Regions from separate parts of the Homo sapiens genome. Here region 1 is linked to region 2. The links come from fine-mapping of genetic effects on gene expression. A gene starts in region 2. The other region holds a variant in brackets. All regions are shown on one strand. Distances are from middle to middle.

Region 1 (15,729 bases), 860 kb after region 2:
AAGTCACAGAAATCAATTTTGTCTATCCTAAACAAAAAAAGAATTGGTTGGGGGATAGATGGAGAGCTCCCAGAAACATCAGGGTTGAATCGCCTGTAGGAACCAAGGGGGCCTCTGTAGCTGGATCCTCTGGCAGAATGCAGGTAGGCGAGGGGTAGGGCCACGTTACTTCCAGGTTCAGAGCCCCAGTGGAAGCTCAGATTGAATAGGTTCCACCAGGTAACCACTCTCTCACTGACAGAACTCTCCCCTTTCAGCCTCTGTAATGAAAGGTGGGCCTTCTTCCTTTACATCAGGGTTCCTCCCAAATACGAAGATTTGGTTGTTTTATAGCCCCAGATGACAAAAGTCCACTCCAAACATGATTCACATTCCCTGTATTTCCACTGCAATAATAATAATATCTATCAATTATTGAAGACTCATACTTTTCCAGGCATTGTGCTAGGTGTTCCTAACTTAGAACTTTTAATCCTAACTGCAACCCTCTAAAAAAGATAACAGTGGATATTTTTTATAGGCAAAAAAAAATGAGCCTCAAAGAGGTTAAGTGACTTTCCTATAGCCATACAGGTGATGAAGCCAGACTGATCTGCCCCCTGGAACTGATAGCTTGTCTACCCTATTATGCTGCCAGTTTATGGAGTATCTTCCCCTCAATTTTTTCCTATATTCTAATAAGTCGGGCAGATAGGACTTGTTTCTTAGCTATTACATCCACATCTGAGTAATGAAAGATATTAACAACAGTTCCTTTAAGACTCCTTCCATCTGTGATGTTCTAGGTTGCTATAACTATATTCCGACGGCTACCATTTTACAATGGCATTGAGTGTGTAATTACAGAACAGATTTGGACAATGTCGGTGGAAACATTATCACTATCAAGTGTGATGCTGTTTTTTGTTTGTTTGTTTGTTTTTTGGTATCGTGCAGCCTTCCTCTCCTGTAAGATTGTACTTCTCCCACTAAGTTAGGTCCCTGAAATCTGTTAGGAAACGAAATGCAGGCCTGTATCCCTCCAGAAGTGGCTGCCAAACATAAAATTTCTGCTGTCTGTTTGGTGATATGCTAATCAACCTTTGTTCTTCTAAATGAATACATCTCAGCAGAGACTCAAGGGAACATTTTCAAAGAACAAAGTGTATGTGTTCACCATTTTTACGTGGACAGGCTGTCTATTCAAGTAATAACCCTTGATGTTCTCTTGGGTGTATGTTTTAACTAGAAGCTAAAACCTACTTGGATGCTTTTGCAGAACCCTAACCCTGGCTTCAGTCTGGAACTTGATACAATTGCAAGTTGAAATTGCAAATTGTATCAGGGCTTTAAAAAGCATGAGTTCTGGGCTTGTTCCTTTCTAGTGAGGAGCAGTTTGTGATTCATTTATTCAATGGCATTGTAAATGGACATTTATGGAGCACCTGGTTGGGGCTTGGGATTGTATCAGCGTTGAGCTTTCATTACAAAAAAGACAAGTCCTCAGCGCAGTGCAGGAGATAGACATCAAAACAAATAATGAAAATGCTGGTGATGGAAATGACACGACTTGAGTGCCTGGAAAATGCACTAAATGATCAGGAAGAAGGGAACCACTAGGTGTTGGGGAGTAAATGTGGGGGAAAAAAATCTCAGAAGAAGTTAAATTTGAGTGCAGTGTTGATGACAGCAGTTTTACCTGGAAGATAAGGAGAAGTGTGTTTGAAGGCTGAAGGGTAAAAGCCTGCAAGTTTTGGGACATATGAAGTTCAGGACAATTGTGAATTACACAGAAAGGGAATTTTAAAAGGGCCAAAAATAGACCACCATAGTATGAATAGTGCTGTATATCATCCAAAAGTATTTGGATTATGTTAACAGGGAACTGTTGAAGGTTTTCACTAGAAAGTGATACAATCAGATCTGTATCTTAGAAAGATCACTCTGTGGACAGAAGGATTAGGGCAAATAGGGAAAAGCAGCCCTTCTGGATAGTAAAATTAGGGTTTTGGTAAAAATTCATACAAGAGTGGGAAGACCCATGGTTTTTCAGTCTCTTTAAACAAAAAATGAAAGCCATGAGGCTTAGATATGAAAATGTGTGGAAATTTCATTAGGAATAATTACAGTGTTTATTTTCTTTTACTAGGCTGAAATGTTTTTAAAAACACAGTAGGCCAGTACTATATACTTTGACTTTTTGAGGCATAAATTTTACACAACATGAGCCGAATTTTGTCCTCTAGCCCATAAAATGATTACCAACAGAATCCTCAGTTATGGTGAGTTAATAAGTTATTAAGAATACTATTTCTTATTTGAAAGTTTTCACACTGTTCCTCTTGCCAGTGAAAATGCTTATTTAATGTTCAATGATTTATTTAAGAACCCCTTTCAAACATGTATCATGTGTCATTGAGCTAAATCAGAATATGTGAATGTGGACTTCTTTAAGACATGTCAAAATGAATAAGAGTTTTAGTGAGCTGTTCTATTTCTTGTACAAGCCAGTGAAATAACAATGAGCAAGTCTTCAGTGTTGAGATGGGGAAATACGAAAACCATCCCAGCTTACTCCACTCATCACCATGGTTTCATCATCTATTACACAGTAAAACAAACAGAGCCACTGACTATAACCCTTAATGAGCATATGTGACTCCGATAATATTTATCGGGTTTATTTGTTTGAGGCCAACTGAAATGAAAAGAAAACAGTGCGGGATTGGGTCATTACTCTCTTCTGACGTGTGCTGTAATTCTAAGGAAAACATTAGTAGCCTATTTTTAGCAAGTACCTTCATCCACTGAAGAGATAATGGCCCAAGGAGTAATCGCTGAGATGGAAAGCAGAAATTCCCAGAATTAAACTGTCTTGCTCATCTGTTCTATGGTCATAGGAAATCTATCAGCACTGTCATTTCTCATCAACAACGAGGAATGTTTTAAATCAGGCCATTATGCAATTCTCCCTAACTGAACTACCTTTCACCTTCATCTCTGCTAAGTCAGGATCCTCCAGCCAAAAGAAATAAAAAAACCTCACCTCCTCCAGAAAGTCTCTCCACATCATCCTGTTTATCCACAAATGTTATCACTTACACCTTATTTGCACTTACATAATCTGTATATTCTATGTTTTTCCTTTATTCAAAAAAATCTATTGAAAAACTCATACAAAAATGATAAGGCAAGACATTGCTCTAGTTCCCATAATGATGGTGTCTGGGGGAGGTAGAGCTGGATGAAGAAGCTACAGTTTCTTCCCTAGAGGAGTACATAACCCAGTAGGACGGACAAGGACCACAACAGGGTAAAAACGTGGTCCTCAATATTGTTTTGCCTCAGGGTCTGAGGGCGATGCCACTCCCTGCCATCAGTCCCAGGGACTCATCAGAGATGGACAAAGGTATGTGGACATGACGAGGGGACTGCAATCCAGGCTGGTGGGGTGGAGGAGAGGAGGATGTAGAAAGTGGTTTGAGAATGATCAGGAGACACCAGTAGTTTAAAGCAGGGTTTTTGGAATGAAGATATGGATTACAATGTGGTACCTTCCACTATCTGTGTGACTCTTGGTAATTTATGTAATTTTTTAGAACTTAATAAGGTTTGTGTTACATATACTCCCACCCTTTCTTCTGGTGGAGAATCATTGTGTTAAATTATAAAATGTCTCCCATGAAAAATACTATATATGCTGGAGGTTCAGAAGAAAAGGAATTCTATGACTTTGGAGGAAGGGATCAGAGACAGCTTTGTGAAAAACATCTGGGTTTTAAGGTTAGTTATAATTTGAGGAAGCAATGATGAAGGAGGCAGAAACCATCCAACCATGAGCCAAATGATAAATGGAGTAAACAGAGAGTATTTGCATATTCCTTTCTTGATGTTTCAACAGAATTCCAGGCATTTGTTGATATTCCCACCAGAAACTGTAAGCTTCTTAGAGCAGGAACCATTATTTGTCATTCTATTTATTATCCATCTGCACAGAGAGGCCAATGAAAATAAATACCTTGTTGATGATCTGGGTCTATGTGAAATCATTCTTAAAACGTAGTGGTTGATCGATACACTGTGAAACTTGTTCTCTTTCTCTCTGTGTGTGTCTCTCTCCCTCAAAGGGAAAGGGAGGCTTGGAGAATGGAGAAGTGGATCCAGGGAGTGGAATGAAGCCTTCTCATTTCTAGAAGGTTTCACATGTATGAGATCCCATCAATTCTCCCCCAAAGAGCATGGCATATGTAATAGGCTCTCCAGAGTCAAGTAGTTAGGGTTTATTCGTCTTTTGTAATTCTTCAGTAATTGGTAAAGTCTTTAATTTTAATTTTAATTTAATATTAAAATTTTGCTACATGTTTTCAGCTAAGCAAAGAGGCAACTAGATGAAGATGTTTAATTTAAATGTGTTTAGAAGTGTTAAAGGCCAAGAAGACCCACAGGAATTGGTGGGTGGAGATAAGACCTTAGGGTACAGGCAGCTCCAGGGAAAGGAAGTTGGGCTCCTTGACTTATCCCTCCTCTCCAGGAGCAGATTCTCCTTCTAATGCTACCAGGTTCTGGGGTCCATTTTTTTTTAAGGTAGGTGTACTTCTCTTTGAAGGAATCTTTTATAGATTGGCATAAACTACTGAGATCATGCCACAAGGAGGTGTTCAAAAAAACTGACTTTATAGAGTGCTCTACAGCTGTATAGGTCCTAAAATGTGGATACTGATACTGGGGATAATAATACTGCTATAGAAAAAAAGTGTGTGTTTAAAAAAATATGCTTTAAATATGTGCTCTACATGTAATTTTTTATTATCGTAGAGAAAAGAATCAAAAGATTGAGAAAAGCGTTAAAGATAAACTAAAGAACTCCCATAAACTTATTATTTTAGCACCCTTATGTACTTGATATTATAGATAGACAGATTCTTGGGAAAAAAAGACATAAGAAAATGCTGAAATTCCTGTTTTGTGACTTGATTTTTTCCAGTTAATATATGGCTTTGCCAATAAATAAATATATTTCTAGCACATTCTTAATTTTTGTAGTTTTTTTTTGTTTGTTTGTTTTCTCCTCAGTATATAGGCAGGTTTGATTCCAGACACAACAATACAGCAAATATCACAATAAAGCAAGTCACATGCATTTTTTTTTTCAGTGCAAATAAAAATGATATTTACACTATACTGTAGTATATTAATTGTACAATAGCATTATGTATAAAAAACAATGTACAGACCCTAATTGAACATACTTTGTTGCTAAAAAAAATACTCAAGATCATTTGAGGCTTCAGCACATTGTAACCTGTTTGCAGGATCTAAATATGATGACAATGAATTTTGCTGCATCTATTGACTTTTCCTGTCACAAAAGATTTCTCTGTAACATGTGATACTGTTTCATAGCATTTTACTCACAGTAGGACTGCTTTCAAAATTGGAGTCAGTCCTCCCAAATTCTACCACTGCTTTATCAACTTAGTTTATGTACTATTCTAAATCATTTTTGTCATTTCAATTTATGTAATTTTCTAAATTTGTCTTTGTCATTTCAACAATGTTCACAGCATCTTGACCAGCAGTAGATTCCATCTCAAGAAACCATTTTCTTTGCTCATCCATAAGAAACAACTCCTTGGCTGGCATGGTGGCTCACACCTGTAATCCCAGAACTTTGGGAGGCCAATGTGAGCTGATCACCTGAGGTCAGGAGTTCGAGACCAGCCTGGCCAATATGGTGAAACCCCCATCTCTACTAAAAAAAAAAAAAAAATCAGCTGGCCCTGGTGGTGTGGGCCTGTAATCCCAGCTACTCCGGAGGCTGAGGCAGAAGAATCGCTGGAACCTGGGAGGCAGAGGTTGCAATGAGCCAGGATTATGCCACTGCACTCCAGCCTGGGTGACAGAGTAAGACTGTCTTAAAAACAAAACAAAACAAAAAACAAAGAAGCAACTCCTCATTCGCTCAAGTTTTATTATGAGATTGCAGAAATTTAGTCACTTCTTCAGGCTATATTTCCAATTCTAGTTATCTTGCTATTTCTACCACATCCGTGGTTACTTTCTCTGCTGAAGTCTTGAACCCCTCAAAGTCATTCATGAGGGTTGGAATCAACTTCTTCCTAACTCCTGTTAATGTTGATATTTTGACTTTATCCCATGAATTACAAATGTTCTTAATGGCATCAAGAATGGTGAATACTTTCCAGAAGGTTTTTAATGTACTTTGCCCAAATCCATCAGTGGAACCAAGCCCTATGGCAGCTGCAGTCTTACAAAATCATCTTCTTAAATAACAAGACTTGGAAGTTGAAATGGCTTCTTGATTCATGACCTGTAGAATGCACATTGTGTTAGCAGGCACAAAAACGACATTAATCTCCTCACACATCTCCATCAGAGCTCTTGGTTGAGCAGGTGCATTGTTATGAGCAGTAACATTTTATTAGTTTGGTGCAAAAGTATTTGCAGAACTGCAATAACCTAATAAAAGGAATCTTTTTCTTTTTTCCTGAGTAATCAGTTTCAACAGCGGTCTTAAAATATTCAGTAAACTATGCTGTAAACAAATGTGCTGTCATCCAGGCTTTGTTGTTGCATTTATAGAGTACAGGCAGAGTATCTTTAGCATAAGTTTTAAGGACTCTAGTATTTTCCGAATGGTAAATGAGCATTGGCTTCAACTTAAAGTCACCAGCTGCATTAGCTAGTAACAAGAGTCAACTTGTCATTTGAAGCTTTAAAGCTAGGCATTAACTTCTCCCTAGCTATAAAAGTCCTAGATGGCATCTTCTTCCAACAGAAGGATGTTTAATCCACATAGCAAATTTGTTTAGTGTAGCTACCTTCATCAATTTTCTTAGCTAGATCTTCTAGATAACTTGTTGTGGCTACTCCATCAGCCCTTGCTCCTTCACCTTTCACTTTTATGTTGAGAGAGCTTCTTTTCTCAAACTTCATTATCCAACCTGTGCTAGCTTCAAATTTTTCTTCTACAGCTTCCTCATTTCTCAGCTTTCACAGAAGTGAAGAGAGTTAGGGCCTTGCTTTGGATTAGGCTTAAATTAAGGGAATGTTGTGGCTGGCTTGATCTTCTGTCCAGGCCACTCATACTTTCTCCATATCAGCAATAAGTCATTTTGCTTTCTCATTCCTTTCCTTTTGCATTCACAACTTGACTAACTACTTGGCACAAGAGGCCTAGCTTTTGGCCTATTTCAGCTTTTGACGTGTCTTCCTCGCTAAGCTTAATCATTTCCAGCGTTTGATTTAAAGAAAGAGATGTGCAACTCTTCCTTTCACTTGAACACTTAGATGCCATTGCAGGGTTATTAATTAGCCTAATTTCAGTATTGTGGTGTCTCAAAGGAATAGGGAGGCCTGAGGAGATGGAGAAAGATGGAGAATGCTGGTTGGTGGAGGAGTCAGAGCAATTCCAACATTTATTAATCAGATTTGCCATCTTCACTGTTCCTTGCACCTCAAAACAATTGCAATAGTAACATCAAAGATCACTGATCACAGATCACCATAAAAGATATAATAATAATTTGAAAAATTGGAAATATTTTGAGAATTACCAAAATGTGACACAGAGACACGAAGTGAGTGCAGGCTGTTGGAAAAATGACACCGATAGACTTGTTGGATACAGAGTTGCCACAAGCCTTCAATTTGTAAAAAATGCAGTATCTGTGAAATGCAATAAAATGAAGCACAATAAAGTGAAGTATGCCTCTACGTTCTCACTTC[A/C]TCTATTGTATCTTGATTTGTTTAGGGTGAGGCAGGCCGGAGGGAATTTACTTCCTCCCGTTTGACCATGTGTCTGGTGAGAAGACCCACCTGCAGCTCCAGGAATGCCCCCATATTGGTTTAAGTGTTTCAGTATTTTCACCTTCAGCCCCTGTGATTGGGAAAGAATGGGCATGAAACAACTTGGGCCAATAAATGATAATACCTCCAGGACGAGCACGTATCAGAAGAGCCTTTCCCTCTTCTGCATGGTGTTAGAAGATGGAAGCTGAGTTTTCTCAGCTATTTTGTGGCAAGAACAGTGGTGAGGGGAACATCTGAACTGCCAGAGAATGTGTTTCCAGAAAGAGGTCCCAATCCAGACCCCAAGAGAGGGAATTCTTTCTTGCTGCAAGAAAGAATTCAGGATCAGTCCACAGAGTAAAGTGAAAGCAAGTTTATTAAGCAAGTAAAGGAATAAAGAATGGCTACTCCATAGGCAGAGCAGCCCCGAGGGCTACTGGTTGGCTATGTTATGGTTATTTCTTGATTATATGCTAAACAAGGGATGGCTTATTCATGGGTTTTCCGGAAAAGGGGTGGGCATTTTCCAGAACCGAGGGTTCCTCCGCTTTTTAGACCATATAGGTTAACTTCCAGATATTGCCATGGCATTTATAAACTGTCATGACACTGGCGGGAGTGTCTTTTAGCATGTTAATGTGTTATAATTAGCATATAATGAGCAGTCAGGACAACCAGAGGTCACTTTCATGGCCATCTTGATTTTGGTGGGTTTTGGCTTCTTTACCACACCTGTTTTATCAGCAAGGTCTTTACGACCTGTATTTTGTGCTGACTTCTTGTCCCATTTTGTGACTAAGAATGCCTTAACCTGTTGAAAACACAGCCCATTGTAGGTCTCGGCCTTATTTTACCGAGTCCCTATTCAAGATGGAGTTGCTCTGGTTCAAATACCTCTGACAAAAGTATCCCTCTTGTGGGTCTATAGGATCTGTGAAAACTGCTTCCCCATATTCTGAAAAGGGTTTTTCTGGGAAAAATGGGCCATAGGAGGTATGTATGAAGTAGTTCTGGTTATAATAGGAAGAGATTTGGCTTTGGAGTGAGCCAAGCCTAGCTTCAAATTCCAGGCACAGCCACACCTAGCAGTAATTCTACCCTAGGTGAGTTATTTTCTCTTTGGACCTCAGTTTCAGTACCTGTAATGTGGGTACAAGAAAACATATCTATGAGCTGTTGTGAGAATTTAAGGCATATATTCAAGAGCAAGAGTGTTGTGAGGCTTGAGCATTGTGAGAGAGGACTGTGGACACAGACACAGTTATGTGGGGAGGGGACAGGTAAGAGAATGAAGGAGGAATTAGGGCACAGACCTCCTTGTATGCAGGCTCAAGGGAAATTGGTTCCCTGGTATAGGTTTCTCAACCTTGGATATGTGCATAAATCACCTGGAGATCTTACTAAAATGCAGATTCTGATTCAGGAGTTCTTGCATGAGGTCTGAGTTTCTGTTTCTAACTAGCCCCTGCCTCCTGGTCATATGGATCTTCTGGTTTGTGGACCTCTTGGGTTAAAATGCTCTAGATCACAAATGAGGGCAGACCTCATCACCCTTATTTTTATTCCTGAGAAGTCTTTCTACTACCCACTAAATGGCAAGCTTTTCCAAGGCAATCCTAGATGTGTTCAGTGTTCTGTGCACTGTGTTTGCTCACTCTATGGAGGAAGAGAGCTCAATTATGGGAGGTAAAGGAGATGCCCTGATGCTGTCTGCTTACCCTGCAGAGCTGAATGCGAGAGGCTTACAAATGGACCTGAGCTCAAAAGTCAGGAAGTGTTGGTAGAATCCTGGCCAAAGCCTGGGTGGAGAGCTTCTCAGAGGGAAGATGGAAAATGAAAGGCTTTCTGTGTCACTGGTTCCCTTCATTGTTGGGTGTTCACATCTCACCGCACAGGAAGCAGCTTCATCTGCAGTTTCCTTCATGAGTCTAGGGAGAGCAAATTACTCCTTGATAGGAGGTAGGTAAGAAGGTGACTTGTTTCCCATTGGCAAGCATTTTACCCATGGCCAGAATCCAATCCCAGGGTTGTGCATCTTTGAGATGTAATTGAAGAGCAATAGATTTGAAGTTGGAAGAACTGGATGCCGCTCAGAGCTGGAAAATGACCTGTTCAGTTACTTGGACAAGTTATCCAACCTTCCTGAGACTCAACTTTTTAACCTGTAAAGTGGTGATTATCAAGTAGCACAAGTTTTCTAGTAATCCTATTATCAGGAACAAGTGAAAAAATATATGCAAGAACTTTGAAAAACAAGCAAATAAAACACTATTCAACTGTAAAGGATTGTAGGGACAAGAGTTGTAAGGCAGCTTAGTTACCCAATTGCCTGACTGTGAAATTATATCTGAGACACTAGAACCCAATAAGGTTGGCCTTAAGTATATCTGAGGAAGGGGCAATGCAGAGAGAAAAGTGACAACTACTCAGGAAATCTATCATGCCCTCTGTGCATTATGATGTCTCAGATGGTGTGGTCACCTGTGTCCCCAAGGATGCAATGCAGATCAGGACATGACAACCAGAGCATGACCCCATGGCCCCTTGAAGGTGTGCAGTGGCCATTCAGTTTGAAGGCAAAGAGATCTCCCTAATCTAATAAAGCACATCCGAGCAAAAGGATGGAGTTCAGTTTCTTCCATATCATTAAAACTAGATTGAGAATACCCACAAAATCTAATGTATGGATGGAAAAGAACAAAGAAGATATTTACATCCCACTTCTCTCAAAGAGTCACCCCCCCATTTTGGAAGCCTGTCAGCATCCTAATATTGCTGTTTTCTAACTCCTTGACCTGAATAAAAAAGTCCCATGCCCCAAGTGTAAAGAGATTGGAGCACATGCTGTGCATCAGTTTCTTGACATTTTAAAGAAACAGGAAAAGCTCAGAAACCAACCTGGCATCCAAACCAGGAAATGCAGGGCCTGGCCAGAGAAGGTACAGAAGGACAAATTCTCCTTGTGGGTTAGTCCATGTGGTCTGCTAAAATTTGGATATTTGTTCCTTCCAAATCTCATGTTGAGAAGTGCGATTCCCAGGGTTGGAGGTGGGGCCTGGTAGGAGGTGACTGGGAGGTGATTATGGGAGTGATCTCTTATGAATGGCTTACCACCATCCCTTTGGTGACAAGTGAGTGCTTCCTCTGAGTTCACGCCAGATCTGGTTGTTTAAAAGAGCACGCACTTCCTGCCCTCTCCCTTTTGCTGTTGCTCTCACATGTAATATACAGGTTTCTTCCACCATGATAGTAAGCTCCTTGAGGCCCTCACCAGAAGCAGATGCTGGCACCATGCTTTCTGTACAGCCTGCGGAACTGTGAGCCAATTAAACCTCTTGTCTTTATAAACTACCCAGTCTTAGGTATTCCTTTATAGCGACACAAATGTTCTAACATGCAGTCTAAAAATCACGTTCCCTTAAACTTCACATACTATACAATTCTGACAGATAATGCAATGAAGGATGCTGAAAAGGAAGGGAACACCAGTTAATCCCTAGGGCCTGGGAATAGAGATGACAAGGAAGTCAAAGAGTCAACCGTTTGCCCAGAGAATGACTCTTTCATTTAGCCAGTGGATTCTGTCTAAATGTTATCTTCTTGGTGTCTCTTTCTCCAACACTCATTAAGCAAATTAGCACCCACTCCCTAGACACATACACACATTTTATCCCCGTTATCTCCTCCCCTTCTCAGCACTTGGTATCCTATAATAGCTGTTATTATTATTATTATTATTATTATTATAGTTTACTCTCTTTCATCACCATAACGAAAGTTCCATGACATTGATTGCTTTGTTTACTATTATATCCTCTGCACTTAGCATGGCCCGAAAATGATAGGTGCTCAAGAAATATTTCAGAATGAATAATGCCCTGGATTGTGTCCAATTTAGTCCTTGAATACTTCCCTCACTTAATAGTTTTAGGTTCTTCAGCTTTTTTTTTCTCATTCTTCTTAATTACTTCAATATTTTTTTCTCAGTCTATTTTCGTATCATCATCATCATCACTATAATCATCACGTAAAATGGCTAGCATTTCTATATGTGGAGAACTTAAAACCTTACAGCCCTTCATGGCAATAGCTCCCTGGCAATCCACCTACAGGCACAGAAAGGGCTGGCAGTTGCACCTCAAGCTGAACAGTCTCCAATCTCCTTCAGGCAGAATGCTTCATTTGTGAAATTCATTTCTCAGGGTATATTTCTCTCCAGGTCATTTATGAAAAGGGACTAACTTTGTTGGATAAAAGCAAAGTCATAAAATCACTTTTCTGGTGGTATCATACATGAGGGGCAAATGGCATGCTGGTGTTCTAGCCCCCTGAATTGCAAAGTGACGTCTAACTGGCAGGAAACATGTTTCTCCAGTGTGAGCAATTTTGTCACAGATGGAGAAATATCTTTGGAAAAAAATATCTGACATATAATCAGTGCTCAACATTTTTGGAATGAATGCATGGACCAAATCTCCCTGGCTGCTCTGTTTCTCCCTCCTATGTTGGTGGCTTGAATTTTGGGGATTTGTGGTAGAGTTAACTACATGTCCATGCTTTTTTTCTCTGAAGCCCAGCTGTCACTGTGTAGCCTCTGTCTTCCTGTACATGAAACATTCCCTGTGCATCTGGAGGCTCAGAGAAGGGACCCCGCCAGTCTGCACGTGAAATTTGCAGCCTCAGCTTCTGCACCTGTGGGCTGAGCGATCTGGAATATATTTCCATTTCCCGGTCACAGTTGGAGCAGTGAGATTTGACCTTTAGAAGGCAGTGGTTTGTTGAGAGCCTGTTCTTAGTTCTTTTTAAATCATGTACACACTGCAAGAGCTGGACACCTCTGCCTACTGAAGGCTGAAGGAATGTTCCTTGAAGCCAAGTCTAGACAGAATTCCAAAGCAGGGGAATTGGTGGGGACCAGGGAAATTGCCACACCGTCCATGCCAACTTTCTGTCCTGCAATTTTACCATTTTTGTGTTTCTGGATGTTAGCCAAAATGAGATGCCTTTTGTGCCAAGAATGACCATAACAAGCAGGTTGAGGTTTCCACTGGAGGTTAATTTAAATGTTCCACCTTCCTTCAGCTCCCAATTTAAAGTGCATTATGTTTCCCAAGGCAACCCCAAGATTTTCCAGGCCTCTGGTTTACTGAGGGGAGAAGCAAGGAAAAGCCAAACTATTCTCTGTCATTTCTCAATTTATAGCCACCTGTAATCAATCATCAGATGAATGGGGATTTACAAAAACAATTGAATTAGGAAAGTACTAATCCCAACTGTCAATGGGATGAGTAAAACCCCAAACTGAAGCGAAGGAGACAGGCATGATCTTTCTGGCTCACTTTCTGCTGATGCCTGATGCGGCTCCACAACCTGAGGCTGAGCCTGCCCCAAGCCACACAGCTGGCACCCCATGAAAACCTGGCATCCCAAGCCCTCATGTGGTTTGTGACCTTTTGTTTTAAACTGCCTGCTCCACCCATTTCAAACTCCAGGTCCTGAAGAAAACATTCTCTGAGCATCTGATGGTTTCTTATTCAGAATCTACTCTCTGTCTCCCTCATCCTACACATCCATTAGCCACGAAGTCCCACTGATTTTACTTCCTGTCCCATTCATATGCACACCCACTGCCACTGCACTGATGCAGGTCCTGCCATCCCTCACCTTGCTGGGACCATCTGCCCGCCCTCAACATGTTCTCTACAGCAGCCCCGCTGTCAGCTCCATTCTCCACATGGCAACCAGCACCACAGGTCAGCCATAAGAATCTGACCTTGCTCTTTCCTGCCTAACATTCTAAGCTTTGATCACCAGACTGCTCATGGTTCACTTACCACCACCCTGCACACACACACACCTGCTGGATCATGACTTTGCCCTTCCTTTGGCCACTCCCCAGGCATTCCCAGGCTTCACTTGGATAATATTCACTTCCCAAGATGTGGATAAGGTTGCATCTCTTAGAAACCTTCTCAAACGCATCACCCTGGTTCAAACATATCTTCTTACTCTGCTCATAATTTCCCATGTAATTTTGAAATTATTTGATGACATCTCCTTCCTAAGCTCTCAGATCCTAGACAGTGGGATTGCCCCTTCCTGACCCCATACTTGGAACACAATAGGTATTCAAGAAATCTGTGTTGAATGGGAGTGATAAGCCTCACTTCTCCCTAAAATCAGTTTTCTTGGTATTGATCTCTTGACTTGCTTCATTTCCTGTCTTGACAATGGTGTAGACTGTTTCCTCTAAGGGTGCTTGCCCTGGTGTATTCATAAGCAACCTGCTCAATGCTCACCAGCTACTCCTCGGAAATCTCTCAGTGGTCCTGGAGTCCATCCCTGGGATCTCTCAGTGGCCTCTCTGTAGTTTTAAGAAGAATTTTCAATGAGGACTTAATTCCGGAATGATTTTGAAAGTAGGTGTGGGCAGTGGCTCACACCTGTAATCCCAGCACTCTGAGAGACTGAGGTGGGCAGAACACCTGAGGCCAGGAGGTTGAGACCAACCGGGTCAACATGATGAAACCCCCGTTTGTACTAAAAATACAAAAATAAATTAGCCTGGCATGGTGGCACATGCCTGTGGTCCCAGCTACTCAGGAGGCTGAGGCTGGAGGATCACTTGAACCTGGGAGGTGGAGGTTGCAGTGAGCCGAGATTGCACCACTGCACTCCAGCTTGGGCGACAGAGTAAGACTCTGAAAAAAAAAAAGGAGCTAGGTGTGTTGAACTGAGTACATAATCACTACTACATTAAAAAACTGCTCCAGAATAAAGCCAGAGGAACAAGGATGACATGAAAAATGTTGTAGTCCTATGGCACTTTGTAGCTACAAAGGTTTGTCTTATTTGGGAAAATTTAGTAGCTCTTGTGCCCAGCAGTCATAAATTAGTATCTTTTCTGAGTGCTGGCTTATTGTTACATCAACTAGGGAGCTTTTAGCTGATGCCCAGGTACAATCTCAAAGGTTCTGATTTAATCAGCCTAGGTAAAGCCTAGAGTATTGGTGTCTTCTAGAAAGCCCCCAAGGGATATTTTGAGCATCCAGAATTAGGAAAGGTTGCTCTACAATGAGCTTCTCCTCATTGGTGGTGACACCCCTGACTCTGTCTTCCCAGCCAAAGCAAGTTCCTTTTCACTGCGCCCCTAATGACTGTGGACTTTACAAAAGCTTAGGTGATCTCTCTTGAGAATAGCTTCCAGTGATTCTTCAACTTGGGATTTCACTATGCAGAAAATGTGTTGAAAAGAGAAAAAGAAAACACTGCAAAGGGATCACATTTATGATTCTGTAACAGGTAATTTAAGCAGTGGTACACATACATGTGTAAATATATACCCAATGCAAATATAACATGTTATACACCTGTCTCTGTGGAATGCAGTGTGGCACAACAGAGACTGCTGTACTGTGAGCTGCCGAAGTGACACACTTTGAACTTTATGTCTTACTTAGGAAAGCCTGGAGATCGATCTTCATAAATTTAGGTGAGAGGACGTCTGTAGATTGAGGGCCCTGCCTGAAGGACAGGCTCTTCCATTATGCACAGCTTTTTTTTTTTCTCATTTTAAAGTATTCTTCTTGTCTTCCTGAAGCAAGACCAACCATCACTGAGGAGATGAAAAGACTTGACAAACATCAGCCTTGGGACTAAAACTTAAAAAAAAATCAGTCTTTCAATTCTTTCATGCCTGGTACATCGATGGACAAATTCACAATTTCTATGCTTGAATTTCTGTTGATCCTTAAATAACATCCACCTTGAGAAAGAGGCCAACAGAGAGTAAGCCAGGGTGTTAGAGACGTACTTCCTATTCATTAGGAGACTGTAGATTATATGACTTCGTGTTTGCAAAGCAAGTAAAATAGTGCCTCGCATGTACTTATAACACTATACAAGTGTTAAACAAAAACAGGATAAATGTAGTAGAAT
Region 2 (15,729 bases):
AACTTACTTCTAAAATGTTTTTAACTTGAAGATGTAATGTTAGTATGTCAGAAGTAAACATGAAACTTTTAACTTCCTCCTCCTTGATATCATGCAAACTATGCTACTGAGACAGGAATTGAGATATCTTCATCAGGCTCTTTATAATTATCAAGAATGGTGGAGGGCCGGGCGCGGTGGCTCACGCCTGTAATCCCAGCACTTTGGGAGGCTGAGGCTGGGCAGATCATGAGGTCAGGAGATTGAGACCATCCTGGCTAACAGGGTGAAACCCTGCCTCTACTAAAAATACAAAAAATTAGCTGGGTGTGGTGGCACATGCCTGTAGTCCCAACTACTCGGGAGGCTGAGGCAGGAGAATTGCTTGAACTTGGGAGGCAGAGGTTGTAGTGAGCTGAGATCGTGCCACTGCACTCCAGCATGGGTGACAGAACAAGACTTCGTCTCAAAAAAAAAAAAAAAAAAAAAAGAATGGTGGAAATACAGAGTTTGCTTCACAGGAGATTCACCAAAACTAATCATGCTTTTTTACTAATCTTGAATATTTTAATTCTTAGGTAGATGAGGCAAAGAGCCTCACCATTTGCTTTTTGCCTAAAAATAAGGTATCTTTTCCTTCATGTTAAACTCATGCTCTTTGCTTTCCTTTCACACAATGTACCCACAAAGGAAATGATTTTTTGAATAGTCCAGAAACAAAAAGGCAAGGTCACTGAACACTTTCATCATTATTTCCCAACTTGATAATACATCTGAATTCTGAACATCTCCACACGGGCCAATATAACTTATTTTTTTTTTTTTTTGAGATGGAGTATCACTCTGTCACCCAGGCTGGAGTGCAGTGGCACTATCTCGGCTCACTGCAACCTCTGCCTCCTGGGTTCAAGTGATTCTTCTGCCTCAGCCTCCCCAGTAGCTGGTATTACAGGCGCGCGCCACCATGCCCAGCTTATTTTTGTGTTTTTAGTGGAGACGAGGCTTTACCATATTGGCCAGGCTGGTCTCAAACTCCGAACCTCAAGTGATCTGCCCACCTGGGCTCCCAAAGTGCTGGGATTACAGGTGTGAGCCATAGTGCCTGGCCTATAACTCATTTTTAACACCACACTTTACCCACAATGAAAATAGATTAACTTCCATCATATTCTCTTAATTATGGCAGTCAGAAGTTGGCTAAGGGGCCAAGCGTGGTGGCTCACACCTGTAATTCCAGCACTTTGGGAGGCCGAGGCTGGAGGACCCCTTAAGCCTAAGAGTTAGAGACCAGCCTGGGTAATACAGGGAGGCCCCTATAAGGAGACCCTCTAACTCTTTGAAAAAAAAAAAAAGTCTGTTAATGTTCAAAGGGAAGGGACGTAACTCCACATCTTGATAAGGGTAGTGGCAAGGTTCGAGAAGGGTATGAGACTTTAAATATTGTTGGGGTCATTTCTGCAAAACACAACTTGCCATAGGTTTCTTTTGTAAAATGGGAGACCAGTGATTACCAAAAGGCAGCAGGGAAAAAGAACTGGCATGATCCCTTGATATGGATATGTTTTTATGTAGGTCAATTTTAATAAAGGATTTACATGGGCACTGCGATCTGAATTTGCATTCCCTTAAAGCTATTTATGCCTGCATATCCCTTAGAAAGTTTAATATTCCCAGGAGTATGTAGACCCTTGTTTGAAGACTCTACTATAGACTACACTTCCATCCTTTAAGCATATGAATTTTTAAGATGTATACTTAATTGTAAGTTTTTCTAAAAAGTTATTCAGCATTTTTATAGAGGTAAAATGTGTATCCTAGAACATTAAAAAACAATCCCTTTCATTTTAAAGAATAATCAATTCCTTTTACTCAGATAAATAAAAATAGAGTAACGGTAACAAACCAAATGGCCAATGCCACAAGAATTTTGATAACTGAATACACTACTTACAGTGTATGCATCTTTCCTGAGGACAAAAATTTTTCTTAAAAAACTCAGGCCAGGTCTCTAGAAGTAGATGTTGGTAAGCGTTAGCAAGAAATTTTACCTTTGTTTTATGTTACACTTACAGTGAAATAAAATGTACGTAGACCATTAGAAGAGTTACAGTTTGAATGTCTTCCAAATATGATATAAATACACTGGCACAAAATCCTAACTTCTGTTTTCGTCTTTACTAATAACCCAATGATCTAAGAGATGCTTCAGTAAATTATCTCCAAATGTCATTTCCTAAAGACAACATTTCTTACCTATAAAGTTCAATAAAGTATTTAAAAAAGTATTCCCTTTGCTTTAATTTCCATTATACATCATGACCTCAACATATCTGGAAAGACATAATGTTGGGAATAAGGACTTTTTCTTTAAAATACTGGGGAAAAATTACTAAGTTATCCCTTTTATATACAGGGTGTAGGTAGAACAATATAGTAGTTACAATCAGAATTTCTACATCCATTTATCACTTAAGTACCTACTATCTTGCAGACACTATTCTAAAAACTAAGGAAATGGGGGTAAATGAGAAAGTAACAGCTACCACTTATTGAGTGCTTACTATGTGCCAGGCTCTGGCTTAAGAGTTTCATACATAAATTCATTTAATCCTCCAACACAACACCTCTATGACACAGGTACTATTAATTTTCTCATCTTACACATGAGAAAATTGAGGCATAGAGAAGTGAACTCATCCAGCTAGTAACTTGTAGAAACAGCATTTCCAAAATCCTGGCTTTCATGGAGCTTTTATTAATCTAAAAGCCTTCCATTCTTATTTTCTAGTCTCTGTGAAATACCTAATGAACAAATTTCTGTGGGTATGGTTCAAATAGGAGGTGTGACCATTTTGTTTTTACACGTTTCTTTCTGGGAATGTTGAAACAAAAGTTTTACTAGCTCTATCTTCGTATTTTGTAACTTCAAAATGCCTAGAGTCTGTGTTACATGTTAAAACACCTGATTTTGGCCGGGCATGGTGGCTCACGCCTGTAAACTCAGCACTGTGGGAGGCTGAGATGGGTGGATCATTTGAGATCATGAGTTCGAGACCAGCCTGGTCAACATGGTGAAACTAAAAATACTAAAAATACTAAAAATACATGTTCTGGGCTGGGCACGGTGGCTCATGCCTGAAATCCCAGCACTTTGGGAAGCCAAGGTAGGGGATCACTTGAGACCAGGAGTTCAATCGAGACCAGCCTGGCCAACACGGTGAAACCCCATCTCTATTCAAAATACAAAAATGAGCCAGGCGCGTGCCTGTATTCCCAGCTACTCAGGAGGTCGAGGCGGGAGACTCGTATGAACCTGGGAGGCGGACGTTGCAGTGAGCCAAGATTGCGCCACTGCACTCCAGCGTGGGCAACAGAGTGAGACCCTATTTCAAAAACAAAACAAAACAAACAAAAAAAACAAAACATGGTCTCTACTAAAAATACAAAAATTAGCCAGGCATGGTGACATGTGCCTGTAGTCCCAGCTACTCAGGAGCCGAAGGTTGCAGTGAGCCAAGATTGCACCACTGCACTCCAGCTTGGGCAACAGACTCCATCTCAAAAAACAAACAAAAAACCACTTGATTTTTAAAAAATAGTTGGGGTAACAATTCTTCCATATTTTTCTCTCCAGAACTATAGGTATATATCCATAGCATCCCTTAATTTGGAAAACCACTTCTCTACTCCAGGTAGGCCCAGTGGTGTTCAAGGTCACAGAATCCTGTCTCATTATGGTGATGTGTCCATGATTCAAGTTAATTAGGTCTCACTGTGGCCTTGGCCACAGTTAATTGGTTCAATAATACAGAAACATGATCTAAGTATGGCAAATTTGTCTTCTCTTGGATTGATGGAGATGAGAGATGTTCTTTTTGCAATGGAAGTGATTTGAGGCTGCTGGTAGCTATCTTCTTTGGCCTCAAGAGAAACTAACTCCATAATGCTAAGAGGTATAGAGAAATTCAGATAGAACACTTTGATTTAGCAATGCATGGTCTATTCTTGCCTTTTCCAGTTAAATGAGTATAAAGTTATGCTTAAATGGGTTTCTGGGGCTTCAAGTTTTAATGCATTTTAACAGAAGCATTAGATAAAATGAGTATGAACAGAACTCTGTTATTCTCATCCTCATTATTTACGAACAAATACAGAGCTGTCTACAGCTCAAAGGATGGTTTACCTATTTCATTTTCAAAAATAATTTGCAAAACATTTACCTATGAACTCTAAGTGACTACAAAGCATTACTGTAGTAAGTCTACTTCTTTATCATACCACAAAACCACAATAGCTAGAAGACAAAATGTTTTATTTTAAAACATTGAAAAAACATTAAAAGACAAATGTCCATTATGTAACCAGGAATGTTAAATATATGGAAACGGTAAATCTCTAAAATGTGGTAGGTACTTCCAGAGCTAAATGTTGCAAGTTATCCTACTTTTTTCTCTAATATCAACAATACCTGATACGATGAAAAATAACAAAAAGACCTTACTAATTATCCAATCAAAGTCATCATCTTTGGGTAAATTTATATCAACACAACTTAAAGTTTTGTCCAAGATGTTCCTGACACATGAAGCTTCCAGTTGAATTTCAGAAATGTTAACAAAAGTATCTTCCTTTTTTGCCTGTGAATGTTTGAGTATTGCTGTATTGTTGGCTTATATCCACTACAGATACTGGTTCTAGGCCAGCCCAAGGATCTTCAAGCATTGAAGGCTTGAAATAATTTTCCAACTCATTAGACATTCTTTTTTCTCTAACACGCCCTGATCCAAATGGTGTAGATGTCCTTGGAGAACCCTTTAGAAAAAAAATCAGTTAAAAAAACACTTAGTAAAGATAATTGGTACTTCTTCCTTTAGCTAAAGGTTAGCGGGAATCACATTGCTGCTTAAAAGTTGTGACTTGAACCTAAATAATGTTCAATTACAAAGTCCATGCTTCCTTTAATCAAGTGTTCCTATTTTTTAAAAAAAGTACTTAAAGCAATTCGTTATTCTCATTTATTTATAATTCCATGACCACTGTCATCTCAAATACTTTTGTGTCTAATGTAGTAACTTTGCAGTAATTAAATACAAGCAGTGATGAAATCAAGTAATTATATTCAATTTTCCCTCGAAATTTTCACTTTTTTCAGGAGAAAACAATACTATAGTTTTAAAGTTTCTAGAACCTTTCTAGCTCATGAACATTTTCTTTACTCCTTAGCTCCAGGCTCAAAAGGGGTAGGGGGTTGGTGTAGAATACAGCAAGTTGGAAAACCACGTAGTTGCAAGTTGTAAACCACAGAAATCCCAGACATGCTAGAGATACTCTCTCTGTCTTTTGTATTTACTCTCACTAAAGGAATGGAAAACTTCCACTACCACCGATTTTCTTTTCAGGGAAGTTGGAGCAGAAGCCAGTGTAGCTCGAAAGAAAGATAAAAAAAAAAAAAAAAAAAAGAAAAAGAACTATTTCTTGAAACAAACTGGCAAGGCCTTTGGCAAACAGGAGGAAATGGAGAATTAGGAAAATCTGTGTACGGGTGGCAGTGTATTGGTTAAAAGCACGAGGGCTCGAAAACAGAACGTACGGCTCTGCCACTCTTTCGGATAATCTTCCGGAAGTCACTCAACTTCTCTAAGCCTCAGTTCGCTCATCTGCAAAATTGGGCTAACAATAGTACCTCAGAGAGGATTAGACAAAATAATCCACGTAAAGGGAATATTAGTACCGTGCCTGCCATAAAGTAAGAGCTCGGCAAACGCTGGCTATTATTATTACCTGGGGGTGGGTCTGCTGCTGCCCTGGGGAGTAGCCGAATTGCTGCTGGGACCCCGCGGGGGACCTGGAGTAGGAGCCAGGGTAGCCGCCAGGGGACGGAGACCCGAACCGGCCCCCCGGGAAGCTGCCGCCGTGTCGCGGAGAGTGACTGCTCCCGTACGGCCTAGACCGGGGCCCGTACGGCGGCGTGTGGTGCGGACTCCCGTACCCGTCTCGAGGGGAGGGCGGCCGTGGTCCGCCCCCGCCCGGGGTTCCCCGGAAGCTGCTTCCGCTACCCCAACCTCCTCCACCCGGACCAGGGTAAGGAGGAGTTGGGGGCCGAAAATTCTGTCGCTGCATATCAGGAGCCAAAGCCGAAAACCTCGCAGCCGCGTTCTCCCACCGGAACTGTATCAACCGGCCCTCCGCAGAGAACTGCTAGTCCTTTACCAAAACAGTCCTCCGACCGCAGCCACCCTACGGCACATCAGTTCCGGCGTCACAAAGGTTCCGCCAGGGGCGGCGGGATTACCTAAATCACTGACTTGGCGAGAGACTCAGTGGATTTAAGTGAAAAGAGGAAGAAAAGGAGACAGGAAAGGACGGACACCCAAGCCCAGCAACAACCTTTCCAGTCTGAGTGCCCTTGGTCTGACCGACAGACTAGAAGCTGGCCCAGCAGGCGACTAGTGCTCAGCCCCGCCCGGCGGGGGCGGGGTCTGCGGCGTCCGTGGGCGCCCCCCAGTGGCGGCGGGTGGCGCCGCACGGAGTTCGCCGCTTGCACCGGGACCGATGCCATCTGAGACGCACGCGATGCTGGCGACGCTGGCGAGGGTGGCAGCTCTGCGCAGAACCTGCCTCTTCTCCGGCCGGGGCGGCGGGAGGGGGCTGTGGACTGGCCGCCCGCAGTCAGGTACCCTCCGAGATTCGGTCTGGGTGGCTAAAGGGATCCCTGCCCCAGCTTGCCTCCTCGGGCGCCCTGAGGAGAGCAATTAGGGTCTGAAGTCTCTGCTGACCCCTTAGCGGTGGCTTTGCTCGCCTCCCTGCAACCCCGTTCCGTGGGCCTGCGGCCGGCCTGCCCCGCTCTGGCCGCCCAGGGTCGCCTCTGTCCCGTGCGTTGTTGTGACCGAGGGCTCCGTGCGCCGTGGGGTCCCGCTCCTGCGCGTCCCGCGGCTCGCGTTTGGGGCCTCTTTACTCCTGTCCTTTCGTCCGCCAAGTTTAAGTAACTTCGAAAATGCACACCAAGCCACATTTCAGAAAGGACTTTAGCCCGCTGCTTTGAATAACTTGACACTTCATGTACAATAAAAGATGCCCTTGTACAGTTACCTGTTGCAGAATTTTATTTAGAGGATGAAATTTAGCTTTACTACAGTGTTATAGAACTTTCTTTACTCCCTCTGAATTTGGGAATGGTAATCCACTATGAATCTTTTTTTTCCTTTTTTCTTTTTTTCTCTTTTTTTTGAGACGGAGTCTCGCTGTCTCGCCCAGGCTGGACTGCAGTGGCGCGATCTCGGCTCACTGCAACCTCCTCCTCCCGTGTTCAGGAGATTTTCCTGCTTCAGCCTTCCGAGTAGCTGGGATTATAGGCATGCGCCACCACGCCCAACTAATTTTTGTATTTTTAGTAGAGACGGGGTTTCGCCATATTGGCCAGGCTGGTCTCGAATTCCTGACCTCAAGTTATCCTCCCGCCTCGGCCTCCCAAAGTGTTGAGATTACAGACGTAATCTCTATGATTATGCGCGCGGCCCACTATGAATCTTGAAATTAGTTGCAGGATGCAGGATTTTTTTTTTTTTTTTTGAGACAGTCTCGCTCTGTCGCCCAGGCTGGAGTGCAGTGGCGCGATCTTGGTTCACCACAACCTCTGCCTCGCGGGTTCAAGCGATTCTCTTGCCTCAGCTTTCTAGAGTAGCCGAGATTACAGGCATGTGCCACATGCCCGGCTAATTTTTTTGTATTTTTAGTAAAGACGGGTTTCACCATGTTGGCCAGGCTGGTCTCAAATTCCTGGGCTCAAGTGATCCGCCTGCCTCTGCCTCCCGAAGTGCTGGGATTTCATGCGTGAGCCACCGCGCCTGGCGTAGGATACAGAATCTTAAAAGAGCTTTAGGACTCATTAAATCATAGCCTAACGGGTAGCCTGGACCTGTGATTTCCATTCACCCTCTTGTAGCTGCTACTCCTCGCTGTCTCTTTGACATGTTCTGTGACATCCCAAGCTGACGAGTGTGGTATCTTCTCAGCTTCTATCCTCCTTGATGAATGGAGACACACACAGACAGTTTTTTTGTTTGTTTATTCTGTGGAAATTCAATTCACTACATTTCGTTTCTTCTGTAGATACAAGTGATAGACTTAATCAAGGTAGCACGTTGCCATTAAGGCTTAGTGATACAATTAAGGTCGGAGGACTCCAGCCTATCCACTTTATTAAATACAGTAGTTCTGTCCTGGCCAAAAATTCACCTTTCTGGACATTGTCTTTAGTGTTTAACTTAATGCTTGGGAATTGCTCATTTGAATATTTATTGAATAAAATGACCTAGGTGGGACGATTGCTTGAGCCCAGGAGTTGAAGACCAGCCTGGGCAACATCGTGAAGCCCCATTTCTACCAAAAATACAAAAAAAATTAGCCGGGCTTGGTGGCGTGCGCCTGTAGTCCCAGTTGCTTGGGAGGCTGAGGTGGGATGGCTTGAGTCCTAGGAGGTTGAAGCTGCAGTGATCCGCTATTGTGCCACTGCACTCCAGCCTGGGTAACAGAGCGAGACCCTATCATGCCCCCCCACCCCACTGGAAAAAAAAAAGGTTCACATACATCACATAGGTAATTTTCACCTTTTAGATCATCAGCCAGTCTACTCAGGGGAGGGGGCAGAAAAGTGAGAGTGGTGGGGACCAAAATTAACTTTATTATTATTATTATGGACATGGGGTGGTCTCACTCTGTCACCGAGGCTGGAGTGCGGTGGTGAGATCACAGATCACTGCATCCTCGACCTCCTGGGCTCAAGTGATCTTCCCACGTCAGTCTCCCAAGTAGCTGGGAGTACAGGCTCATGCTACCATGCCTGGCTAATTTTTTTATTTCTTTATTTTTTGTAGAGACAGGGTCTTGCTGTGTTTCCCAGAACTCCCCACCTCAAGCATTCCTCTCTCCTGCCTTGGCCTCCCAAAACTCTGCAATTAAATGGTGTGGTGAGCCACCATGCCCAACCAACAAATTAATTTAATAGTAAACAGTTTAACTGATGGACGCCTAATGAGTATATAGATCTTTATTCCATCAACCCATTTATCTGTATAACTTCAATCTAACTAAAGTTCACTAAAATTTATTAAAATTCAAAAGCCATGCTCTTTTTAAGCTTCTAGTAGTACATTTTGTAGCAAGATAAAAGTGACCAATAAAAAAGTTTGAGTTGTGTTTTTCTGTCGTATAGCAGTATACTCTCTCTATATATTTTTTATTTATTTAAGTATTGAGACATGTCTTGCTCTTTCATCCAGGCTGGAGTGCAGTGGCGCAATCCCAGTTCACTGCAACCTCTGCCTCTCTGGGCTCAAGCAATCCTTCCACCTCAGCCTCCCAAGTAGCTGAAACCAGAAGTGTGTGCCACCATGCCTGGCTAATTTTTGTATTTTTTGAAGACATGGGGTTTTGCCATGTTGCCCACACTGGTCTTGAACTCCTCAGCTCACAGAATCCAGCCACCTGGGCCTCTCAAAGTGCTGGGATTACAGGCATGAGCCCCCTGTGCCCCAGCCAGTTATGATTTTGTTTTGGCATATATTCATGGGGGTACAAGTGCAGTTTTGCTACATTGATATATTGTATTGGGGTGAAGTCAGGGCCTTCAGTGCATCCATCACTGGCACAAGACACATTGTACCCAGCAAGCAACCTCCTGTAGTCCATCCCCTTCCCTCTACATCCCCAACCCTCCAAGTCTCCATTGCCCATCACTCCACACTCTGCTTCCATATGTACGCATTATTTACCACCAACTTATAAGGGAGAACAGGCAATATTTGTTTTTCTGTGCCTGAGTGATTTCACTTAAGATAATGGCCCCCAGTTCTATCCATGTTGCTGCAAAAGACATAATTTCATTCTTTTTTATGGCTGAATAGTATTCCATTTTGTATATATGCCATATTTTGTTTATTTAGTGCTCCATTGATGGGCACTTAGGTTGATTTCATATCTTTGCTTTTATGAATAGTGCCGTGATAAACATATGAGTGCAGGTGTCTTTTTGATGTAATGATTTCTTTTCCTTTGGGTAGATGCACAGTAGTGGGATTGCTGCATCTTCCGGTAGTTCTATTTTTAGTTCTGTGAGAAATCTCCATACTGTTTTCCATAGAAGGTGCACTGATTTACATTCCCACCAACAGTGTATAAGAAGAGTTCCCTTTTCTCAGCTTCCTCACCAACATCCTGTGATTTTTTTTGTCTTTTTAATAGCCATTCTGTTGTGTGTAAGATGATATCTCATTGTGGTTTTTAATTTGTATTTCTCTGATGATTGGTGATGTTGAACATTTTTTAAAAATTTTACTCATGGCAGTACACAGAAATTTTCAGGGAAGATTAAAAGGCATGAAAACATGACTCTTAATAGACAATTCTAGCAATATACAAACTATTTTTGTTTCCCTAGAGTCTTGAATTTTTTGTTCAACTCATTTTCTGGTTATGAATTTAAAATGATTACAGCATACTGCCAATGTTTGAGAAGAAATCTGTTATTGGATTAAGTTTAGGAATCAGGCTGGGCGTGGTGGCTTATGCCTGTAATCCTACCACTTTGGGAGGCTGAAGTGGGTGGATCACCTGAGGTCAGGAGTGAGCCGAGATTGCCCATTGTACTCCAGCCTGGGCGACAACAGCAAAACTCTGGCTCAAAAATAAATAAATAAATAAATAAATAAATAAATAAATAAATAAATAAATAAATCCAGGATTCATAATATTAATTAATTTATTTAATTTTGTGACAAAGTCTTGTTCTGTCACCCAGGCTGGAGTTCGATGGCAAGATCTCAGCTCACTGCAACCTCCACCTCCTGGGTTCAAGGATTGTTCTGCATCAGCCTCCACAGTAGCTGGGACTACAGGTGTGTGCCACCACGCCTGGCTAATTTTTGTATTTTTAGCAGAGACGGGGGTTTCACCATGTTGGCCAGGCTTGTCTCAAACTCCGGACCTCAGCTGATCCACTCACCTCAGCCTTCCAAAGTGCTGGGATTACAGGCGTGAGCCACTGTGCCCGGCTGATGGTGAACATTTTTGATATGCTTGTTTGTCTTTTGAAAAATGCCTACTCATGTCCTTAGCCCATTTGTTAATGGGATTATTTGTTTTTTGTTGTTGAGTTGTTTGAGTTGCTTACAAATTCTGGATATTAGTCCCCTGTTGGATATGTAGTTTGCAGATATTTTCTTCCATTCCTCAGGTTATCCGTTCACTCTGTTGATCATTTCTTTTGCTATGCAGAAGCTTTTTAGTTTAATGAAGTTCCATTTGCCTATTTTTGTTTTTGTTGCCCGTGCTTTTGAGGTCTCAGTCATGAATTCTTTGCCTAGATCAATGTCTAGAAGAGTTTCCCCTAGGTTTTCTTCAGTATTTTTAGAGTTTCATCCTTACATTCAAGTCTTTAATCCATCTTGAATTTATTTTTTTCTTTCTTTTTTTTTTAAGATGGAGTTTCGCTTTTGTTGTCCAGGCTGGAGTGCAATGGCGCGATCTCGGCTCACTGCAGCCTCCGCCTCCTGGGTTCAAGCGATTCTCCTACCTTATCCTCCCAAGTAGCTGGGATTACAGGCATGCGCCACCATGCCCCGCGAATTTTTTGTGTGTTTAGTAGAGACAGGGTTTCTCCATGTTGGTCAGGCTGGCCTCAAACTCTCGACCTCAGTTGATCCGCCCGCCTAGGCCTCCCAAAGTGCTGGGATTATAGGTGTGAGCCACCGTGTCTGGCCAAATTGATTTTTTTATATGGTGAGATACAGGGATCCAGTTTCATTCTTCTGCATATGGCAATCCAATTTTCCCAGCACCTTTTACTGAAAAGGGTATCCTTTCCCCAGTAAATGTTGTCGACTTTGTCAAAAATCAGTTGGCTTTAAGCATGTGGGTTTATTTCTGGGTTATGTATGCTGTTCCATGGATCTATGTGTCTATTTATTTATTTATTGAGGTAGAGTCTTGCTCTGTTGCCCAGGCTGGAGTGCAGTTGTGCAATCTCAGTTCATTGCAACCTCCGCCCCCCGGGTTCAAGCGATTGTCCTGCCTCAGACTCCTGAGTAGCTAGGATTACAGGCGCACGCCACCACACCTGGCTAATTTTTGTATTTTTAGTAGAGACGGAGTTTCACCATGTTGGTAAAGCTGGTCTTGAACTCCTGACCTCATGATCCGCCTGTCTTGGCCTCCCAAAGTGCTGGGATTACAGGCATGAGGCACCGCACCTGGCCCTATGTGTCTGTTTTTATAGACACTATGAGTATTATGCTGTTTTGGCTACTATAGCCTTGTAGTATATTTTGAAGTCAGAAAATGTGATAACACCAGCTTTGTTCTTTTTACTTGGGATATTTTTGGCTATTCGGGCTCATTTTTAGTTCCATATGAACTTTAGAATTGTTTTTTCTAATTCTGTGAAAAAATGATGTTGATAGAAATTGCATTGAACCTGCAGATTGCTTTGGGCACAATGGTCATTTTAACCACATTAATTCTTTCAGCCTACGTGCATGGGGTGTTTTTCCATTTTTTTGTTTCATCTATAGTTTCTTTCATCAGTGTTTTGTAGTTTTCCTTGTAGATTTCTTTCACCTTCTTGGTTAAATATATTCCTAGGTGTTTTATTTTTTTGTAGCTATCATAAATGGGACTGCCTTCTTGGTTTCGTCCTCGGGTAGAACATTATTGGTGAACAGAAATCCTAGTGATTTCTTTTCCTTTTTTTTTTTTGAGACAGTCTTGCTCTACTACCCATGCTGGAGTACAATGGTGCAATGTAGGCTCACTGCAAAGGCCTCCCAAAGTGCTGGGATTACAGGCATGAGCCACTGTGCCCATCTGATTTATAAATTTTTGACAGATTATGCATGAGAGTGTGCTTCTTGGGCCAGGCGCGGTGGCTCATGGTTGTACTCCCAGCACTTTGGGAGGCTGAGGCAGATGGATCACAAGGTTAGGAGTTCGAGACCAGCCTGGCCAACATAGTGAAACCCCGTCTCTAGTAAAAATACAAAAAAATAGTCAGGCGTGGTGGTGGGCACCTGTAATCCCAGCTACTTGGGAGGCTGAGGCAGGAGAATTGCTTGAACCCAGGAGTGGGAGGCTGCAGTGAGCTGAGATTGTGCCATTGCACTCTAGCCTGGGCGACAGACAGTGCAAGACTCCATCTCAAAAAAAAAAAAAAAAAGTGTGCTTCTTATCACATTTACAGGTAATATATGAAGATTGAGGGAGAGGGAATTCTTTTTTTTTTTTTTTGAGACAGGGTCTGACTCCAGTAGCCCATGTTATAAATAAAGGTTTGGTGCCACAAAAGAAATAGCACTGGAATATAAAATTTTCTTTTTAATTCTCAGCAAGGCAATGTACTTCTATAGAAGAATGCGCCCTTACAGATGGAACAATGGTGAGCACACACCTGGACAAGGGAGGGGAAGGGGTTCTTATCCCTGATGCACGTGGCCCCGCTGCTGTGTCATTCCCCTATTGGCTAGGTTTAGACCACACAGGCTAAACTAATTCCAATTGGCTAATTTAAAGAGAGTGACGGGGTGAGTGGTTTGGCAGGAAAAATGGTTATGGCAGAGCAGGAAATCTGAATGAGTCAGGGTGGAGAATGAGCAGGTAATCGGAATGACTTAGGGTGGAATAGGTAACTGGAATTAGTCATGGTGGAGCAGGTAATCAGAATGAGTCAAGGTGAAGCAGGTAATCGGAATGAGTCAGGGTGGAGCAGGTAATTGGAATGAGTCAGGGTAGAGCAGATAATTGAAAAAGGTTGCTTTACCAGGAAGTTAAGTTTAAAACTAGAAAGCAAAGAATTGAACCTACTGACAAACTGATTCTTTGAAGAGAAATTTAGAACTCATATCTAACATTCTGTCCTCTTGCATTTCCTTACGGCTCTTTTTCTTCAAACTTCTTTAACATGTCTTGGCTTAGTTGTTCTACAGATTTTCCAAAAGAAGAAGCTTCTTTACATAAGGCAGAGAATAGTTAAGGGAGGTTTTAGTAAGTGCTGTTTTTATGAGCCTCTGCACCAACCCATGGATGCATGGTGTGACACAGCACCTGACAAGAGTAAGTACACCCATTATGGCTGCGAGGGAAGTAAGAACTGAGGCTATTATTCTTTTCCACTTACTGAACCACTTTTCTAGCCATCCTGTAAAGGAGTCATTTACCCCTGAGTTGTTGGCTAACTCATTGGACACAGCACTCAGACCTTGCAATGCCTTTGTTATACTTCCATCAGGGACAGTGTTGTTTGGGATGAAGGTACAACATTTGTGTTTTAATCATGATACAAACTCCTCCTCTTTCTGCTAATATCATGTCTAAGGCTATCCTATTTTCCCAAGCCATGTGGCTTGTAGCCCCTAATTACTCAGCTATTCCTTTAACAGCATCTCTAGTATAGTTAATAAATTGCTGTTGGTTGTAATAGATGTAGTTTATCCAATCTACATTTTTATTAATTGTCACCCACCAAAATATTGACTCAAATTCTGTAGCTATTTGATTTTGGGGTTTAAATTGATCTGGTATTCCCTGTGGGACTCCAATTGCATTTAAATAGATGTGAGAGTCGAAAGACCCATAAGAGGCTTCCCTTGCTTTATGACGTCTGGTTTTTCCTTCCTCTGCTTGATGAAAGGCCAGAGTAAAAGGGATAGCCGATTGGACTAGAGCATAAATACTGCTCTAATTATTTGGCAGAGTGTCCAGTAAAGGTCCTCCATAATCCCACCATACATCCGCTTAGGGATGAATAAGGGCAGACTGATAGGTCAGCTCTTGGAAGTGCCACACTTCACTGCATCCTGTTAAGTCTCCAAGGAATGCCAAATTTTTCCCTTGGTCGTTGGAGACATGAGGTAAAATTGATTTTGGAAAATGGAGGCTGGATGGCCCTTGGGGGCTGACCCGCAGCATGCTGGACTTTGGGATATAGCAGAGAGAGAGTGTGGCACAACTTGTTACTCTAGGCTGTAGAATCCTGGAAAAGAGCTACCATGCAGCCCATGCCTGGTTGACTGGATGACCACCCTAGTGGAAAGGGGACAGTCTGGGCCTCTGGCCTGCGGTGCGCACAAGCATAACAATTGCTTTTGTTTAACGTGCAGACGGAATATTTGATCCATTCCAACCAGGCATTTGCATCTTGGTATCTTGTCTTAATTGCCGAAGTTTGTTTTAAGTCTTTAACTTGTATGATAGCTATCTTGGTCTTGTCGTTAGATGGAGGAGTGGCAATTGTTCAGTTGTGAGAGGTTTTGGAAGAAGGCTTAGAGGAAGGTGCAGGCACTGGGGGATCAAATAAACACATTTCAAAGAATCCAATAGGGTCTGTCCCTGAAACCTCAGCCCCCATACCATAAAACTGGCTTAAAGAAGGGAACTGGCTTAGAAAAGGGGAAGAAGTTTGAGGGTTCGAGATAATAACCTGTATTGGAATGCACTGGTTTAGCTGACCCCCAGTTGGGGGTTGGCTGTCCCTCTAGTAAAATGAATGTATGGTTTTAGGAAATTACAAAAACTGGTTGGGGCAGTCCATCCTTGCTCTTTAGTGGTCCACAGAATGTTGGACAAACTACGGCATAAAAGCTCTACACTGGGGGGCAAGACTCCTGGTTGACACTGGGGTCTTTACCAAAATCTCCCTGGATTAAGTGGTCTCAATTCACTAATGTCTAGTCTCAGGAGAGTCAGGAGGGAGAGAGGTACTTT

The links.
Region 1: its variant is fine-mapped to the expression of SUGCT in whole blood (TOPMed, PIP above 0.99).

Annotation. Positions count from the first base shown.
Region 1 is chr7:40,983,873-40,999,601 of GRCh38, forward strand. It overlaps a transcript of SUGCT not described here. Among named protein-coding and RNA genes, the nearest start is that of LINC01450, 12 kb to the left of the region's middle. The variant A/C (reference allele first, on the strand shown) is at 7,729.
Region 2 is chr7:40,128,469-40,144,197 of GRCh38, forward strand. SUGCT (succinyl-CoA:glutarate-CoA transferase) reads left to right here and starts at 6,537. Exons shown (of 14, transcript NM_001193313.2): 1 at 6,537-6,652. The coding sequence starts at 6,553. It overlaps MPLKIP (M-phase specific PLK1 interacting protein), which reads right to left and starts at 6,154. Exons shown (of 2, transcript NM_138701.4): 1 at 5,761-6,154; 2 at 1-4,791. The coding sequence starts at 6,099. The coding sequence ends at 4,591. RefSeq lists silencers at 5,880-5,949, 6,410-6,609 and an enhancer at 6,160-6,229.